Homo sapiens: one gene and its partners. The protein of the gene in region 3 interacts with the protein of the main gene of each other region in a biochemical or structural test. Each region holds a gene or a part of one and is shown on either strand. Other genes may lie near its edges. The genes, in order: YAP1, SMAD4, JOSD2, POLI, TLK1 and CGAS.

Region 1 (3,500 bases), on a different chromosome or scaffold from region 3:
CCCACAGCATTCTTCTCCCACATCCAATGTTTAGGGGCCTCCATAGAATCCCTGACAGATACCAAGTAACCATGATTTTACCTACATTTATTGAGCAAGATTTACCTGTCCAGGAAAACTCTTCTAGTTCTTAAAAGTTTTATATAAGAAAATTCTTCCATGGAATCAAAATTCCTCACATTTCTTATATAGTAAGACTAATCCTACTCCCACATAAAAGTTCCCCAGAAACACTGAAACAACAATCATGTCTTATCTCTCCTCCTCCCAGTTTTTTCTTTTCCGGGTAAATATCTCTCTACCCTTGCAACCTTTTCTCCTATGACATAATTTGAGATTTATTTATTTTAGCCTGGTTTATCTTCCTTACAGGCCCATAGTTGACAGGGGTGAATTGAGGTGACTGGGGTTGGAAGGTATATACCCTTCATTAATCCATCTACATATATCAATACCTTTAAGAGAAACATTTCTTCACAAAGGAAGAATCACTGGAAACTTTGAAAAATGAATAGTCATTCCTTAGCATCTGTGGTCAAGGATTGGTTCCAGGACCTCCTACATGTACTAAAATCCACAGAGGCTCTGGTCTTTCATATAAGGTGGCATAATATTTGCATATAACCTATACATATTCTCCCATATACTTTATATCACCTCTAGATTACTTATAATACTTAATACAACGTAAAGGCTAAATAGTTGTTACATTATTTAGGAAATAATGACAAGGAAAAAAGTTTGTACATTAGTCAATACAGATGTAATTTGTTTCCAAATATTTTCAATCAGAGGTTGGTTGAATCCATGAATGCTGAACCCACAGATACGGAAGGCCAACTGTATCTAGAATACTGATTTCAGCTCAAAAAAAGATCATTCATTCAAAATAATGAAATCGTAGGCAGGTATCACCTACAAGCAATTATTACAAGATACAAAGAACTAAGAAGAAGAGCATAAATGTTGCTCTTTAACCTTATACTTTTAGCCACAGCATCAACCAAAGAAAGAAGGAAAGCAGGCTATTAAGCTGTTTAACAATCTCCCCAGGTCAGCATGTGACCCAGCAGGGAGAGGTTCAAAAAAGTGCAGCCTTTCTTTTTCTTCCTAACAACCTGGTTTGTTTCCACTCCCTTCCCCTTCAAGACACATCCTTCACAGCTAGCAGCTCTTTCAATCATTTACTTTGGATGTCTGCTTGAGAACAAATGATCTTGCTCATGCAGATGAGTTTGCCAGACTTGTGTGTACTTTCCAGTCTCAGGCCCTTTACTGTTCTGGTTGAAACCTGATCCTTTGAAATGGATACCAGGACACCAGAAAATGAATTTTTTTAAAAAAAAAGAAGAAAAGAAAAGAAAAAGTTGCAGGAAAGGGGGCAAAAAAAAACTGTACGAACTTTTCATGATCAAACCTTTTCCTTTGCTCTTCTGTAAGTCTGTCACAAAACTTTCTATCTTACATTACAAAGTAGCAACCCACCCTGGAAGACAATCAATATAAAACACATACTAGGATTCACACAACAAAACATCCTTAATGGTGTTATCTGGTATGATAAATAAATGTTACATTTGCCTTAGGAGTAGACTGTCAAGACCTATCCGAATCAAAACTTACACTGTTTTTCACTTTATTATCTCAACCTGATTAAACACTATTAAGTGAGCTTTTTTAAAGACATCAATTTCAGTCTATCATAATTAGTTTTAGTCAACATTTCAATATATACTTGATCCAAACAAGCCAGAAAAAAATTGAGGTCTTATCTGTAATTTCAAAATCAGAGGAGAGAAAATTCTATTTATGTCTTTTCAGCCTAGTGTAATTCTGCCATTTTATTAAACACAAAAGGACTGAAAAAATAAAAATAAATAAACAACCCAACGGTCATGTTTTTGTTTTCCCAGAGAGGAGGGTTTCTGTTGTGAAGACCTACTAGCTTGAAAGAAGTTTGCCACTGAGCGACTGCATATGAAACCTAAAAATTTTTATTTCCCTTTACATTTTTGGGGGGAAATATTGGTAAGTCACATCAAGCTTCAGTTGTAGTGCTTGTCATTTCACAATTTAAAATACTGTAAAATTAGACTCCCCCAAAAGCCCTACTTATTTTGTAGTTCTCTACCAATAAAATATTTATTTAAAAAGATACAAGTAGCACCATACGTATTTTGTAAGACGCTGCTAGCCCTGTAATTCCCAGAATTTGAAAATTTTCATGGTATTCTTTCTGTTTTGTGCTAGGCTAATTAAAAGGTTTGGCACAAGCTCAAAATGAGAATAACCAAACTTCCACAAAAGAAAAGATTATAAAGAGGCTCAGAACCAAGACTCAGTAAAGCTTTCAAAATATTACCCATACTAACAAAGGTATTTAGGTCATACCAAACTGAAACATATATATGGAAGATAGAGCTACAGAGCTTAACATAAATATTAAATAAAACATAAAAATAAATGATATTCTGTATCTTGACACCACTTTACTGTGTTTTCCAATACATATTTGTCTTAGATAACTGTCTCCCACCATTATTTTCACTTACTTTAAGAAGTATCTCTGACCAGAAGATGTCTTTGCCATCTCCCAACCTGCTGGCAGAGGTACATCATCAGGTATCTCAAAAGAAGACTGTCGAAGATGCTGAGCTGTGGGTGTAGCTGCTGGGCCAGAGACTACTCCAGTGGGGGTCAGTGTCCCAGGAGAAACAGCTCCCAACTGCAGAGAAGCTGGAGAGGAATGAGCTCGAACATGCTGTGGAGTCAGGGCTCCTGCAGTGCCTGCATCAGTACTGGCCTATTAGGGAATATTAAGATGAAAAATTAAAAAAGAAAAAACACAACTGAGTCCCTTTAAATTTCCCAGTCAGCGCTTAATTGCAGCCGAATATCTAAGTACCAAAGGAAAATTTCAACATTTAATATTCGACACTGGAGAACACAGGTTTTCAAATGGATACTTTTAATATTATATAATTTTAATATAAATTTTATAAATGTTTGTAATTGTATTGATGAGCAGTCCATCTAATGAATTTCCCCTGGTCCACACTAGACATGTAAGGGCAACTAGTACTGAATGAATAAAACATTCCAAAAATAATAGTGAATTTTAAAACCTAATTTTTAAGAGGTCAGTGCAGTTATGGGTGCTTTTCCAAGTTCTAAAATGTTCTAAGTATAAACACAACACAAAGAATATGTATTTTTTACTAGGTTTTAAGTAATTAATTTTTTTTCTAGGTCAAACTCAAGAAAAATCAAGCCCTCGTCATTTATTCCAACCATGATAAAATGCCATCAATAAAGAAATCATAACAAATTACACAAATTTTAATGAGAGCAACAAATTTGAACTGCCCAAATGTTCTTAAAAGCCATCTACAATGAACAGGATGAAAAAAACCCAACTATATCTTTGTATGTAGAAGATAAAGATGTTATCAGTCCAATTTTAACTTAAGAACTCACACACATCCACAACTCTATACAAG
Region 2 (3,500 bases), on a different chromosome or scaffold from region 3:
TCAGTTTTCAACATTTTCTTGAGCCTGGATTTTTGGGGTCCTAATCAGAAAGGTCCAGAGAGAGAGGTGGATGGAGTGGCCAGGATGAACTGACATACCTCTGAAGAAGTTAATATGATAGGCCAGACGTACAGTGGTGTTTTGCTGGCATTTGAAATATGTTTGTGAAGAAATAAGCCACTACAATTAGTTAGACATTACCTAAAATGGAATAATTTTGAGCTTCCTCAAGTTAAAGTTTGCCTTTATAGATGACTGTAGGTTTTTTACCTGATAGGCCATGGGTGAGTTACACTTTTTGCCCATCTTTATAGTTGTGCATTATCAGATAAAATTGGTCCTTCATTTAGTATATGAAATCATAAGATGACATCTATGAATGTACCATGTTAATGTCTTCTTGTTCCTCTAGGTCAGCCTGCCAGTATACTGGGGGGCAGCCATAGTGAAGGACTGTTGCAGATAGCATCAGGGCCTCAGCCAGGACAGCAGCAGAATGGATTTACTGGTCAGCCAGCTACTTACCATCATAGTATGTACATACTTTAAAAAATCTTTTAAATAGTTGAGAAAAAAGTAGGCAGCCTTTATAAAAGCAAATTAACCCATGTGGGCCTTAATTTTTAGACAGCACTACCACCTGGACTGGAAGTAGGACTGCACCATACACACCTAATTTGCCTCACCACCAAAACGGCCATCTTCAGCACCACCCGCCTATGCCGCCCCATCCCGGACATTACTGTAAGCTCTTGTTTTTGTTGTAAGGGCTATTTTTTTTTTTTTTTTGGTAGGGCTTTGTTTTCTGTTTTTTAAAAATGTTTTTACATCTTTTATTCATCCTGTGATTTTGTTTCATTAAATAGTGCTTTTCAGTATTTTTTGTAAACAGTATTATTTTTCATAGTTATCCTACCTTTTTATTTTAGAGGAGTGATGTTTGCTAAATACATTTATTTCTCTGTTGCTAATGTTTCATTAACATCACATTGATTTCCATTCATTTGTTTGTTTGCTTTGTATATGTTCTTAGATCTCATCTGTGTCTTGTATATCCACGCATAATGGATTGAAACCCTTTGAGTGCTAAGTTCTCAAGGTTTCCCTCAGCGTAGTATTCAGTGTACTTTGGATAATGTTGAATCTATAGATAACTCTGTGCTGGCATGATTGGGAGGAATACCCTACAGATAACATGTAGTTTCAGGTAGAATAGGAGCATTGTTCATATGGCTTAGTAAAATCGAGAGTATAACTCTTATATACATTAAATCCCTTTCTTCTCATTATAATATTAATAGTACCAAAGAAAACTTAGAAAATATAGAAAAGTATAAATAAGAAAAGCAAAATTACCCTGAATCCTGCTACTCAAAAACAGCCACTTCTAATATTTTGTTATTTTCCTTCCAGTCATATAAACAGGTATATGTAAATTGACAGGGGCTCCTACTCTATGTGTATTGTATATATCTTGCTTCTTTTCAGTTATGTTACTATTTTTTCCATTTCTTAAGAGAATGTAATTTTTAATGGCTGCCTAGGCCGTCATAGTGTTGAAGGGTGCTGGGTTTGGACCTTTAACAGGCTGTGTGACCATTGACAAGTTATTTCACCTCATTAAGCCTCAAGAGTAATAATAGTAGTATCTACCTCAAGGGGTGTTCGTAAGAAGTAAACGTAATAATTTATGTGAGGTGTTTAGCACAGTGTTTTAACACATTACCAGTTTTCAATTATGTTAGCTATGATTCCATTAAATAAACATCCTTAATTAACATAAGCACTTGTTTTTAGAATAGACCTAACAGTTTATTATTATACATTGCATTATAAATTGTACTGTATTGGACGTTACATGAATAATTCATTTATGATCTGTATTAAATGTTGGATATAAAATTATGTGTAAATTGTGTAATAATAGCACTTGGCAGATAGCACTGAAATGTTAGTTATTAAATATCCACAAAAGTATTAATAGTTTAAGACTATTTGCTTATTGTAAACTTTTAAGTTCTTAGACATTGCATAAGCTTGTTTTAAACAATTCCTAACCTATAATAGTTATATTTAAGTAAGATTTACTGAAAGTTTTAGCATTAGACAACTTTTAGTAAATAAAAATGGAATTTTTGTTGTCTTTTCTTTAGGGCCTGTTCACAATGAGCTTGCATTCCAGCCTCCCATTTCCAATCATCCTGGTAAGTGTATTTCAAAATTGATTTCCTGTATTTAGATTGATTTAGTGGTGATTGAAACGCACAAACACAGGCTTTAATGGAATTATGGGGTCACTTCTCAGATGAGTACAATACTCATCATGACATGAGTTAATCAACAGTTTGAGTAGTCAATATAGTCACACATAGACTGTCTATATTTTATTCAGTTTAACTGTCCCCAAAAGAAAAGAACTATCTTTTCAGCTAAAATGAGAATTACAGAAATGCTGACTTCAGCATTGAATACATAAATATGCAGCAGAATAAAACTAGGTTTCAAAATAGAACAGCTGTAAAACTATAGCTTAAAAAGCCAGGAAAGAATCTTAAGTACATGCCGAAAAGAAAAATAATTCACTCTATTCAGGATCTCTGGTTAACTGGAATTTAGAAACTATTTGATTAAATTGTATGCAAAAGAGTAAATCGCTAAGTAGCTTTCTTCAGTTCAAAGTTTGTGTATAATTTTTGAAACTGTAGAGGTAATAAAACAGAAAACACTTGAAAATAAAATACTGAAAGTCCCTTGTAACACAAACATAGATTTTGAATTTTTTTCTCATCCTTTCGTATCTGTTTTTCTTAGCATAAAAAGATGCAAATATATTACTTCAGCTAATCACCTTAATTTTTTGGAAACTATAAACTCAATTTTCCTCCTAATTAAAAGAAAATTATGAAGAATTATATTTTTATTTTTACTTGTTTATTTTTGAGAGAGGGCCTGGCTCTGTTGCCCAAACTGGAGTGCAGTGGCATGATCTCAGATTACTACAGCCTTGACCTCCTAGTCTCAAGCGATCCTCTCACCTCAGCTTCTAGAGTAGCTGGGACTATAGGCAAGGGCCACCATGCCTGGCTAATGTTTGTATTTTAGTAGATAACAGGGTCTCACCATGTTGCCCAGGCTGGTCTCGAACTCCTGGGCTAAAGCAGTCCTCCTGCTAATAATTTTATTTATTTATTTATTTATTTATTTTTTTCCGAGATGGGATCTCGCTATGTTGTCCAGGCTGGTTTCGAACTCCTAGCCTCAAGTGATCCTCCTGTCTTAGCCTCCCAAAGTGCTGGGATTATAGACGTGAGCCACCACACCAAGCTTGAAAAATTAAAAAAATATATTTTTAAATGATTTTATTTTTGATCTTTGTGGGTACATAGGAGATGTATATATTTATGGGGCACATGAGATGTTTTGATACAGGCATATAATGCATGATAATCACATCATGGAAGATGGGGTATACATCCCTTCAAGCATTTATCTTTTGTGTT
Region 3 (2,694 bases):
AAAATTTAAAGAAAGTAGTCAGGTATGGTGGCATGCACCCGTGGTCCCAGCTACTTGGGAGGCTGAGGTGGGAGGGTCGCTTGAGCCCAGGAGTTCAAGGCTACAGTGAGCTGTGATTGACCCACTGCACTCCAGCCTGGGTGACAGAGTGAGACCCCTGTCTCAATCAATCAATCAAATAAAGAAGTAAACACCTGCTTTCTCCTTAGCAATGACCCCCGTGGAACCCAGGAGATCAAACTCATTTGTTTGCCACTGGTCTCTCTCCAGCACCGGAGGAGCGTGAGCCCCAGGGGGCACGGACTTGTGTTTTTTTCTGCTGTGTCACTGATGAGGAAACTGAGGCCCAGCAGTGAGAAACTGGCATGAGGTGGCAGAGAACCAGGAGGCCTCCTGGGCTCTCGGCCCCACACACCAGGGTGTCTGGCCTGTAAGGTAAGTGGGAGTCACTGAGTGGAAGGGGCCCCAGAAGGGTGGGGCCGTCAGACACAGGCCAGGCAGGCAGCAAATCAGCAGATTTATTGAGGCAGCAGCGGCAGTGGGGAGCAGGGGTGTGGGGAGGGGGCGGGGCCTCCCCAGGGTCCATGAAGTGCTGGCCTTTCCCAGGCATGCAGTGTGCGCAGCCGGAGGGGGATGCGCAGGGACTGCGCTGTGGGCGCCGATGGTCAGCCATGGTCAGTCTGTCCGCAGCCAGCTGCCCTTCTCCTCCACCTCCTTGGTCACTACCAGCAGCACCTCGCACAGGCCCTGGGCCAGCGCAGCCGCCAGGAAGGCCCTGGGTGGGAGAAATGGGGAGACTGAGGCTCGGCCAGCCTGGGCATTCCGTCTGGGGAGTGGGGTTTCAGGCCCCTGGTCTTGGAATCGCCTCTGTGGGGCTCACCTGACTCCGTCCTCATCCCCCAGGGCCTCGGGCGCCCGCAGCTTGGAGTCCAGGTTGTAGTAGACACCGTCCACCTGGCGCAGGGCCACCCAGTGCCGCCGGCGCAGCGGCAGTGACAGCAGCCCCAGCGACACGGGCGAGGGCAGGTTCAGGATCAGCCCCAGTACCTGGGGCAGGGCCAGCTGGGACAGGGGCCTGTGTGGGCAGGGAGGGGACACTGCCATCAGGGCCTGCTCCGCCCGCCGGTGAAATGTTGCTGAACATGTGGGGCCCAGGCTGGTGGTGGTGAGGGCCTCCTGAGCCCACCCAGAGGTGTTCCTTAATCAGCCACCCTGGTTCCCGACACTCATCCGTTCACCTGCCCACTCAAACCTCCCACCCATGCGGCCACCCAACCAGACCTCCCACCCACCCACCCACCGTCCACCCACCCACCCACCGTCCACCCAACTCACATCGGCCCTTCACCAACCACCATCACCCTGTCTGTCCAGCCACCCACCCACCAACTTACCAACTCCTCACACAGCCACCCAGGATCCATGCATGATCCGCCCACCCCACTGAGCCTCCCAGCCACCAGCCAACTTCCCAATGACGATTCACACACTCACCTCCCATCTATGCATTCACTTCCATCCCTCATATACACCCGCCCCACCTCCCCGTCAACCACCCAACCACCATCACCATCCAACTAGCCATCTACTGTTCACCACCCACCACCCACCCACCCACCCACACAGCCGGCCACCACCCAGCCAGCCATTCACCCAACAGTGGACTCGCCATGCCCCCAATCCTCACTCACTCTTGACCCCCCTGCCATTGGTCTACCCCTCATCCACCAGCCACATGCCCAGCCACTGGCCAGCCGGCCATCAAAACTTCCCATTCATCCACCCAACTCCCCAGCCTCCTGTCTGCTGCCCATTGCCCAGGAACACCCATCACTTCACTCCCCCTGACCCAACACATCCAACGGCCTACTCAGCATTCACCCAGTAACCATCATCCACCCAGCATCTCAGCCCATCGACCACCTGATCTCCCCCTTTCAACCCATCAGTGCCAGGCTTCCCACATTCATGCCAACCTCCCCCAGCCACATTCCCCTCCCTGCCCCCCAACAGGCTCACACTATAGGGTGCCCTCTGTGCCCGGCCCAGCACATGCTGTGCTGCTCTGGGGCCTACCTCCTCCTGTCCCACCACACGGCGGCCAGGCCCAGCCCCTGCAGAGCGGCCATGATCACATTGACATCATAGTTGCCGGTGCCCAGGAGGCTGCGATGAGGGTTCAGCCGGGAGTCTGGGGCCAACCTGGTAGTGGGGGTGGCCAGAGCTGAGGTGGGGACCCCTGGAAAGGCCTCCCCACAAAATGGGGGTCCCAGGGGCCACAAGTTGCCTCAGCCTTTGACTCTCCCCGCTTCAGACCCCACAACTCATCCACCCCCAAGTCCTGCCTCTCCTGCCCCAATTCTGCCCTGTCCCCAAGTCCTGTCTCTCCTGCCCTGACTCTGCCCTGTCCCCAAGTCCTGCCTCTCCTGCCCCGACTCTGCCCTGTCCCCAAGTCCTGCCTCTCCTGCCCCAACTCTGCCCTGTCCCCAAGTCCTGTCTCTCCTGCCCTGACTCTGCCCTGTCCCCAAGTCCTGTCTCTCCTGCCCTGACTCTGCCCTGTCCCCAAGGCCCCAGATGGGCTCTGTCTTCTCCCGCAGCCTCCAGCCTCCCTCCAGTCCATTCCCACACGGCCCTGGCCCTCTCCTGCTCTCAGCTCTCCCATGGCTCCCCAATGCCTTGGACAAAGTCCCTGTC
Region 4 (2,609 bases), on a different chromosome or scaffold from region 3:
TGCCTGTAATCCCAGCTACTCGAGGCTGAGGCAGGAGAATCACTTGAACCCAGGAGATGGAGGTTGCAGTGAGTCAAGATCACACCTTTGCACTCCAACCTGGGCGACAGAGCGAGACCCCATCTCAAAAAAAAAAAAAAAAAAAAGATTCTGTAGTATAATTGGTCTGGTCTTCGTTCAGGGTTCCTGGACACCAAGCTCCTAAAACCCATGGAATTTCCTAAACAACAGAAGTGCCTTCATTATTCATGGTAAGCCCTGACACTGTATGCTAATGATGTGACCCACAGTGGGCCCTAGACAGCTAATGCTAAAAAGATGATTTAGGATGGAGGTAGCTCACTTCAAAAAAACAACCATGATTAGGGTGTTGAGACTTTGAGCCAGCCTGATGTCCAGACAGAGGAGGGAAACTGGAGATTAAGTTCAAGCACACAGTAAAGGTTTTAATAAATCATGCCTACGTAATGAAACCCCAAAGAAAACTCTGGACTTCTTGATTACTTGATATGTTTTATTTCTTGACTTGGACAGTTACATAGTTGTTACAATTACTCATTAACATGTTCATTTATGTTTATGTACCTTTCTATATACAGATTTTAAAATAGAAGTTTTTTTAATATTGAAAACAATCCAGATTTGATGGAAGACACAAATCTGCAGATTCATAATGAACCTAAATCCATGATAAATCTATAGCTAGACATATAATAAAAACTGCGTATCTCCAAAGTAAAAGATATTATCTTAGAACAGCTCAAGAGATGTCAGTTCTAAATCTACAGCTCTAAGGACATAATTTCAGAAGGTATAAAGAATTCTACCTAGAAGGAACATCTGACACACAAGAAAAAAGGTAAGCCCCCACCATGTCCCATCAAAAAAATAAACATTGACTATATAAAATACTAATAATATCCAATTTGGAGATTTAATAAAGAACTTGTGGAATTTAATTAGAATTAATGTTATTTCAATACCTTTGTGTTGTTTGGAAAGAGGGTAGCATTTTTAGATGTTTAAGGATAATCAAAAGGACTTGTAACATTCACATTCCAAATCAGTAAAGGGAAAATATATGATTAAATAGAAAACCCAACTGATCCCAAAAGATAGGAGGAGAGATAAAGGTGGGAAAGAAGCACAACATAGAAAAAGAAATATATTAAAAAATAAGATGGCAAAAAATAAATCCAAATAAATTTGTACTTTGGCACTACAGTGGAATAGATACTTTTTAGAGTTCTCCTAGTACAAAACACTAGATCTTGGAGAAAAGAGACCTCTTAATTCATTGCTGGTTTGTACCATATAAGGGAAATCTCCAGGCCTACACTCAAGACAGAAACCCCCTCTACACTATACACTCAAGAGAGAAACAGAAAAAATAAAAATAAAAATACCCTCTACATTCAAGACAGAAACAGGAAAAAAAAAAAACAACAACAAACTCGAGCTGAAACAAAAGCAAGAAAGCAGCAGAAAGCATCAAGCAAGAAGCAAGCTTGAAAGATGGGGTTTATCCCTGGAGGCAGATAGCTAACAGCATCTGCCTGTTAGTTTGGAATTGACCTGCAGAGACAAAACCTTCGGCTAGTAGTAAGGGTCAGGGAGCTTACACTTAAGACAAGGCATTCAATCAGGATCCACAAAGGTGAATAGAGTATGCCAAGGAGTTTGTACCACCTCACCCAGAGAAGCAACGAACTCAAATCATACTGAAGGAAAACATACACAATTTAGGCCCTCTGTCTTCTCGCAGATTAACACATACTCAAGGAAATAAGTCACAATGATATGCAATAATAACCTTAAATGTAGACTTATAAAGACTTAAAATATTGAAATTATCAAAAATATCATATATTTGACTTTTAAAAATTAGAAACAGACTTACAAGGGACTGTAATGAGTAAACGGGAAGTTAAAAAGAATCAAATGAAAAATATATTTATTGAAATTAAAACCATCATTGTTTTAAATAGCAGGTGAGATGCTACTGAAAAATGAACTAGTAAACAGAAAGATAGAGCTGATGAAATTACCCAAAATGCAGTAAAGAGAAACAAGAGGATGAAAAATATGAGAAATTAAGAGACATGAAGGATACAGTAAGAAAGTCTATCATTTGTATACAGTCCTAGAATAGAGAAGAAATATTTGAAGAGCTAGTGGTTGAGAATTTTACAGAACATGAATTAAAAGATACAGGAAGAAGCCAGTATATACTAAGAATAAAAATAAATTCGCACTTCCAAATAATACAGTAAACCTGCAAAGCACCAAAGAAAAAAGAGATAATCTTAAAAACAGAGAAAAAAGATCCCATAAAAAAGTTGATTCTGAGGCCCAAAGATGTTGAGACTAACTTAAAACCACAAAATAAGTAGCGTAACTGTGACATAGCCCGTACATTCTCAATCTATGAAATGTATTTTTAACTATTTTGCTTTCTCTTTTTAAGCTGGCCAAAACCATTTACTTTGTTTTCTTAGCCATTTTTTCTTAAGCCCCTTCTAGCTGTCCAAGGTCCTGAAATCATTACAAGGACTATAAAATGTTTTAATGATTTACAAAAAGTTATATACCCTTTTCATAAGTTTAAT
Region 5 (3,500 bases), on a different chromosome or scaffold from region 3:
TTTCCCTTAGGAATAGAGAGCAGGCAAGTGCTGAACATTAACATGTAAGGATTGGGGAATGGGAAAAAACTAAGTAGGAAAATCCTAGGAAATAAACACACACACAAATCTTCCAGTGAAAATTAAATTTTCAACAATTTCCCTCTCAAAACATCATCTGTAAAGCTAAAGGTTCAATTAATATCTCGGAAAGTCAGAATTAGAATAATATATTACATTCTATAGATGACTGCTAATTAATCAAGAAATTACTAAGCTAAAACTGTAATACTCTTGGTTTCATATCCCTTTCAAAGGTACTAAATTCTATGATTTCAGAGTAGCGAGGAACTGGAGAGCATAATTACAAATCTATAATCTTTTAAAGTAATGAAAACCCAAACGAATACTAAAAACTTTTAAATGTTAAGAATGACTAACTTCACAAGATTCTGAAATGCAAAACCATCTGTCCATTGTTCAGTAAATGAAGCGCCATGTCTAACTGTTGTAAAGTGCCCGAGGCGTAATCGATCTTGCATACTCTTCTCTCTGCTTGACAGCTTTTCTTGTGTACTCTGAAAAGGAGAAAAAAAATCATCACTCAATTGTATTCATTAATTTATAAAAGCATACAAAGCAAAAGGGGCTAATGAAGGGAAAGCGAAAATTTACTCAACTTTTAGCCTACCTTTTCAATAAGAAGTTTCTTGCTCATTGATATGCACTTATTTAATCGTTCTTTGTATTTTTCAAGTAATTTTTGTTGTTCATCTATTTGCCGTCTGAGATCACAGTTAGCCTATGACATAAGTAGAAAATGCAAGAGGTCTAGACTGGGGAATATGAAAAGCTTAGAAATAGTTTTAATGTTCTAAATAAATTATATACAGATAGGACTAATAATATTAAATATCTGAGTATGATACGAGAAAAAAAAAAAGCCTACTTAACCATGAGATAATACTGTTAAATGTTACTTAAGTGTGTAGTGGAAAGTACATACAGGGAAATTTGTATCCATATCCATACATTCAAATCCATACTCTAAGGTTAACTTTGGCTAAGTTATAAGAACTTTAGTTCAGCTTTCTTATTTCTAAATAGAAGCAACACAATCTACCTCACTTTGTTAAAAATAACTAAAATATGGTATATAAAGTGTCTATCACTTAAAAATAAATGTGAGTTTTCCTCTATCTCTTATAATTAACAAATTAAATGTGGGTTTTCCTCTATCTCTTATAACTAACAAAATATTTTCTCCACTGAACTTATAAATGACATACACAAGTTGCCTACCCAACAACTGTCCTCACCATTCTTCCTTAGCAATAGGATACTAATTCTGTTCACTTTGTAGGTGGCCATATGCTCAGAGAAGAGGCTTCCTTCTAACATCAAAAGATGAGTCTGATTAGTACAGTGGCAAGAGAATAACCTATAGGGCTTGTTACAACAGATTACTGGGAACCATTCCCAGAGCTTCTGAATCAGGTCTCAGGAAGGACCTGAAAATTTCCGTTTCTAATAAGTTCTCCAGTAATACTGATGCTCCTGGTCTGAAGATCACACTTTGAGAATCAAAAGTCTAGGCCAACCATGGTGGAATCCACAAGACAAGGGCACAAAATCTTAAAAGTGCTGAGAGAAAAGAATTGCCAACCTAAAATTAGATACCCAACACAGTTGTTTTTCAAGGAAGAGGAAACAGAATTTAGCACCAATAGACCCTCAGCAATTCAAACAAAATCTCAACACTGTGTGTGTATGATGCATATGCAACTTGAAACCTGATTCTAAAATTTCTCTAAGACTGTGAAGGGCCAAAAATAGCCAAAAAGAAGAAGAGGATATCTGTTTAACCATGTATCATGACTTAACATAAAGCTACATAACTATGATCACCCAAGCCTCCTCCTTCCTTAATAATGGAAATTCAATGTTTTATCCTGGATTGCTATCTGCCTAGCCAAATGACTACAGTTCCCAGCTTCCCTTAGAGCGAAGGATGGTTAATGAGATGCAAGCAGAAGTTGTTCAATGAGATATCCAAGAAGGCTGCACACAGAATTGTGCTTTGTGTTCTCTGCTCCCATCCTCCCTCCTGTTATCTGCTTAGAACACAGATATAATTGTGACCCTAATAGATATATTGAACCTTGATGTGACCTTTGAGATATAAGCCATGAACTAACAATGACAAGGTCCCTTATGATACTGAGGAGTAATAATATCTGAGCTGCCCACTTCTGTTCTTCTCTTGAAAAATAAGCTTCTATCTCATCTGAAGTACTGTTATTTATGTTCACTGTTACTAACAGCCAAAAACAACTGATAAAAATTGTTTTATCAACAATGATAAAAAGATGCTGCAGTACTTGTGTAGAGACACAAACAGAACAAGGAAACATGATACAGAACACAGAAACAGATCCACCTGTATACTGGAAACAAGATTTTATGATGATAGAGCTGGCAGTATAAGAATGAGCTTTTAATTAAATGGGGATGAACAACTGGTTATCCATATAGAAAGAAATTGAAATGAAACCCTACATCATGCCATACCCAAAACCAATTTCAGTAAGACTAATAATTTATATTGAAAGATCAGCTGGGCATGGTGGCTCATGCCTATAGCCCCAGCACTTTGGGAGACCAAGGTGGGAGGATCACTTGAGGCCAGGAGTTCAATACCAGCCTGTAGACTCCCAGCTCTACAAAATAAAAAAAAATCAGCCCGGAGTGATGGCATGAGCCTGTAGTCCTAGCTACTTGGGAGCCTGAGGTAGAAATATTGCTTAAACCCGGGAGTTTGAGGCTACAGTGAGCTATGATCCCCCACTGTGCTCTAGCCTGGGCGACACAGTGAGACCCTGTCACTTAGCGGGGGAAAAAAAAGACCAGACCAAAAAACCTTGAGAAATAACTGGTATTATACAGTAAAATGGAAAATGCGTATGCCCTGTACTCTGGCTATGTCTTTCCTAAACATATACCACAGAAAAATTCTTTCATATGTGCCCTGAAGACATGTACAAAGAATGTTCTTAGAACTGTTTATACTAGAAAAAGTAGAAATAAAATGTCAACTAAAAGCAGAAAAGATACAGAAATTATGGTATACTTGTAACACCTTACAATATTGCAATGAAATGAACAAACTACAGTTATACTCATCAAAGTGGATGACTCTCTGATATATTTCATTGAAAACAAGCTGGGCAAAAGGGTCCATACTGGAAAATTTCACTTAACGTTCAAAAACCAACTGAAATAATATGTTGTGAAGAATGTAAGCACATATTTAATACAACCATAAAGAAACACCAAGGCATCACAAATACAAAATTTAAAATAGTGGTTAAATGGTAAATGGGTGTGAGAAAGTAAATATGACAGGATCAGGAAAAAGACACACTGGATGTTTTAAAGACACTGTCAAATACAGTAGGATCACAGGTGTTGGTTTTATCGAGTTTCTACACCAGTAGTTCTCAATGCTGTCTTAAATTAAA
Region 6 (3,500 bases), on a different chromosome or scaffold from region 3:
TCCTGAGGAACACTGGAAGGTAAATCACCTTAGAGATGAAGAAGAGTCCTTTGGTGGCCCTGTGGCCTATGTGGTTAGGCAGTTCTTTTTTTTTTTTTTTTTTGAGACGGATTCTTGCTTTGTTGCCCAGGCTGGAGTGCAGTGGTGTGAACTTGGCTCACTGCAACCTCTGCCTCCTGGCTCAAGCGATTCTCCTGCCTCAGCCTCATGAGTAGCTGGGACTACAGGCGCATGCCACCACGCGAGGCTAATTTTTGTATTTTTAGTAGAGACAGGGTTTCATTATGTTGGCCAGGATGGTCTCCATCTCTTGACCTCGTGATCCACCCGCCTCAGCCTCCCAAAGTGCTGGGATTACAGGCGTGAGCCACTGCATCTAGCCATGGTTAGGGAGTTCTTTTCATTCTTCCATTAAAATGAAAGAAAGTGAAGGCTGGTGCTGGATGCTTAGCTTCACCTCTGCTTTCTGTTACCCTTGGCTGTTCTGCATCTGCCATCATTCCAGATTATGTATAATTAGACAAAACTCTGCTTCTGTGTATGTGTGTGAGTGTATGTGAACAGAGGGACTTAACAGTGAAAATACTTGTACTAGATTGGAGACACTTATAACACCTGCTATATCTTTTCTTTCTCTAAACATTCTACTAGAAATTCCCTGGTCTCACAAGCTATATTTTTAAAAATATTATGTTTTTGTTTTTATTTATTTTTATTTGTTTATTTTTTGAGACAGAGTCTCGCTGTGTCGCCCAGGCTGGAGTGCAGTGGTGCAATCTTGGCTCACTGCAACCTCCACCTCCTGGGTTCAAAAGATTCTCCCACTTCAGCATCTCGAGTAGCTGGGACTACAGGTGCGTGCCACCATGCCCAGCTAATTTTTTGTATTTTTAGTAGAGACTGGGTTTCACCATATTGGCCAGGCTGATCTCGAACTCCCAACTTCAGGTGATCCACCCATCTCCATCTCCCAAAGATTACAGGCATGAGCCACTGTGCCTGGCCTTGTTTTTATTGATTTTTGATTAAAAATTTTAAATTTTAAAAATTTACCTGTTGCAAAATAATACTAGTTTTATTACCAAGGATATAATTTATTTAAAGAACAGTTTATGATTTACTTGCAGTTTTTTTGTTCTTAAGATAAAAGGACAGTCAAAATATGAGGTTTTTAACCCACTCAAAAAAATGTTCAGCCAGGCGCAGTGGCCCATGCCTATAGTCTCAGCTACTCAGGAAGTTGAGGCGGGAGGATTGCTTGAGCCCAGGGGTTCAGGGCTGTAGTGAGCTATGATCATGCCACTGCACTCCATCCTGGGTAACATAGCAAGAAGTCCTCTATACCCCGCCTGCCAAAAAAAAAGTCTCTGGACAGTTTAACTCAACATAGGTAAATTAACTTGTTTCATTATGTTATCTGTTTTTAGATACTGGTTTTTAAATTTTGATTTAATTCGTTTCATAAATTTATAAAGCATATACGTGGTTCCAAAGTCAAAGCTATGGAAAAAGGTACAGTTAGAGAAACATCTTCTGTTCATGTCCTCTCCACACTCTTCTCTCCTTCCCTGATTAGAAACCTTTTTAATTGTTTTTAGTTTACCCTTCCATGTTTTATTTTTTATTTTATTTATTTATTTATTTTTGAGACAGAGTCTCGCTCTGTTGCCCAGGCTGGAGCGCAGTGGGGCAATCTTGGCTCACTGCAGCCTTCGCCTCCCAGGTTCAAGTGATTCTCCTGCCTCAGCCTCCAGGAGTAGATGGGATTACAGGTGTGTGCCACCACGCCTGGCTAATTTTTGTGTTTTTAGTAGAGATGAGGTTTCACCACGCTGGCCAGGCTGCTCTTGAACTCCCAACCTCAGGTGGTCCACCCACCTTGGCCTCCCAAAGTACTGGGATTACAGGCGTGAGCCACCGTGCCTGGCCTTCCGTGTTTTAAAAGTGTAAGTAAATATATTCTCTCTCTCTCTCTCTCATTCATGTAATGGCTCAAACCTATAATCCAGTACTTTGGGAGGCTGAAGTGGGTGGATCATTTGAGCTCAGGAGTTCGAGACCAGCGTGGGCAACATGGTGAAAGCCTGTCTCTACTAAAAATACAAAAATTAGCCAGGTGTGGTGGTGCAAGCCTGTAGTCCCAACTATTCAAGAGGCTGATGTCAGGGGATCACTTGAGCCCTGGAGGTTGAGGCTGCAGTGAGCCAAGATGGTGCCACTGCACTCTAGCCTGGGTAACAGAGTGAGACCCTGTCTCAAAAACAAAGAAAAAGGTGTCCCTTTTATTTTAAAAAGGGGATGGCATATAAATGTGTATATAGTATATAATATAAATTATATACAATGTTTTATATTATATGACATATTACATATAAATTATACATAATATATTACATGTAAATACTTATGTAAATATATTCATATAAATACTTATATTTAATATATATTTTTAAGATAAAGAAGTCAGGTAAAAACTAAGGAAATCTGGATAAAGTATAGACTTTAGTTAACAATAATGTATCAATATTGGTTTATTGTACCAATGTATTTTATGAATATGGGATGTTAATAATAGGGAAATGGGGGTGCAGTGGCATGTGCTTATAGTCCTAGTTTCCTCAGCCTTCGGGAGGCTGAGGCAGGAGGATCATTGAGCCCAGGAGTTAGGGTTGTTCTTCTTGGAGCTGAACTCCTGGGTTCAAGTGATCCTCCCGTCTCAGTCTCCCACCTCCCAAGTAGCTGAGATTACAGGTGCACGACACTGTAATCAGTGGACATGTTTTCAAGTGGGTTTAAAACTTGGTATTTTGACTGTCCTTTTATCTTAAGGACAAAAAACTGCAAAAAAATTATAAGCTGTTTTTTATAAGTGTATTATTGGTAATAATACTGGTATTACTTTGAAAAAGGTAGATTGAACATAAATATTAGATAATATAGTAATTTATATACATACAAAATATATTTGTATGCTACCCCCTTTTTAAATAAAAGGTACACTTTTTTTTTTTTTTTTTTTAAAGTAGACACAGGGTCTTGCTATGTTGCCCAGGCTGGTCTCAAACTCCTGGCCTAAAGCAGTCCTCCCACTTTGGCCTCCTAAAGTGCTGGGATTATAGGCATGAGCCATCATGGCCAGGACATATGTTTTTCTTTTTAATTTTATTAATTTGGTTTATTTTTTAATTTTATAGACGCCCTGCTCTCAGATATAACACTTTTTTTCTTTTAATTTAACAAGATATTTTCGATCTCACTCCATACCTCTATATAGAGAAAACACCCATTCCTTTTTAAAGTCTATTTTTACAGCTGGTCAAAGAGTAAATCGTTATGTAATATTGCTAGGCATTTCCCAGATCTCCATAGGCATCATTCCAATTTGCTTTTCCACAGCAATGTATCAGAGTACCTGTTTCACTCTCAACCTCACTGACTTGTTAAACTTTTTGCCAATTGAAATTCTTGCCAGTGAGAAAATGATATCTCAAAAAGTAAGA

What was found.
Region 1: of the proteins of JOSD2 (region 3) and YAP1, one has a biochemical effect on the other in vitro, tested with the Homo sapiens proteins (2 studies listed by BioGRID).
Region 2: of the proteins of JOSD2 (region 3) and SMAD4, one has a biochemical effect on the other in vitro, tested with the Homo sapiens proteins (one study listed by BioGRID).
Region 4: the proteins of JOSD2 (region 3) and POLI form a complex in vitro, tested with the Homo sapiens proteins (one large-scale study listed by BioGRID).
Region 5: the proteins of JOSD2 (region 3) and TLK1 form a complex in vitro, tested with the Homo sapiens proteins (one large-scale study listed by BioGRID).
Region 6: the proteins of JOSD2 (region 3) and CGAS form a complex in vitro, tested with the Homo sapiens proteins (one study listed by BioGRID).

What each region holds. Positions count from the first base shown.
Region 1 is NC_000011.10:102,113,447-102,116,946, reverse strand, and holds part of YAP1 (transcriptional coactivator YAP1), read right to left. Parts: intron 2,804-3,500; coding exon 2,553-2,803; intron 1-2,552. UniProt on the Homo sapiens protein: Transcriptional regulator with dual roles as a coactivator and corepressor. Critical downstream regulatory target in the Hippo signaling pathway, crucial for organ size control and tumor suppression by restricting proliferation and promoting apoptosis.
Region 2 is NC_000018.10:51,057,713-51,061,212, forward strand, and holds part of SMAD4 (mothers against decapentaplegic homolog 4), read left to right. Parts: intron 1-412; coding exon 413-532; intron 533-627; coding exon 628-744; intron 745-2,153; coding exon 2,154-2,204; intron 2,205-3,500. UniProt on the Homo sapiens protein: In muscle physiology, plays a central role in the balance between atrophy and hypertrophy. When recruited by MSTN, promotes atrophy response via phosphorylated SMAD2/4.
Region 3 is NC_000019.10:50,505,498-50,508,191, forward strand, and holds the end of JOSD2 (josephin-2), read right to left. Parts: intron 2,203-2,694; coding exon 2,077-2,202; intron 1,076-2,076; coding exon 881-1,075; intron 776-880; coding exon 676-775; 3' UTR 501-675; downstream 1-500. UniProt on the Homo sapiens protein: Cleaves 'Lys-63'-linked poly-ubiquitin chains, and with lesser efficiency 'Lys-48'-linked poly-ubiquitin chains (in vitro). May act as a deubiquitinating enzyme.
Region 4 is NC_000018.10:54,296,126-54,298,734, reverse strand, and holds the end of POLI (DNA polymerase iota isoform a (long)), read right to left. Parts: 3' UTR 501-2,609; downstream 1-500. UniProt on the Homo sapiens protein: Error-prone DNA polymerase specifically involved in DNA repair. Plays an important role in translesion synthesis, where the normal high-fidelity DNA polymerases cannot proceed and DNA synthesis stalls. Favors Hoogsteen base-pairing in the active site.
Region 5 is NC_000002.12:171,049,394-171,052,893, forward strand, and holds part of TLK1 (serine/threonine-protein kinase tousled-like 1), read right to left. Parts: intron 782-3,500; coding exon 671-781; intron 558-670; coding exon 421-557; intron 1-420. UniProt on the Homo sapiens protein: Rapidly and transiently inhibited by phosphorylation following the generation of DNA double-stranded breaks during S-phase. This is cell cycle checkpoint and ATM-pathway dependent and appears to regulate processes involved in chromatin assembly.
Region 6 is NC_000006.12:73,435,298-73,438,797, reverse strand, and holds part of CGAS (cyclic GMP-AMP synthase), read left to right. Parts: intron 1-3,500. UniProt on the Homo sapiens protein: Nucleotidyltransferase that catalyzes the formation of cyclic GMP-AMP (2',3'-cGAMP) from ATP and GTP and plays a key role in innate immunity.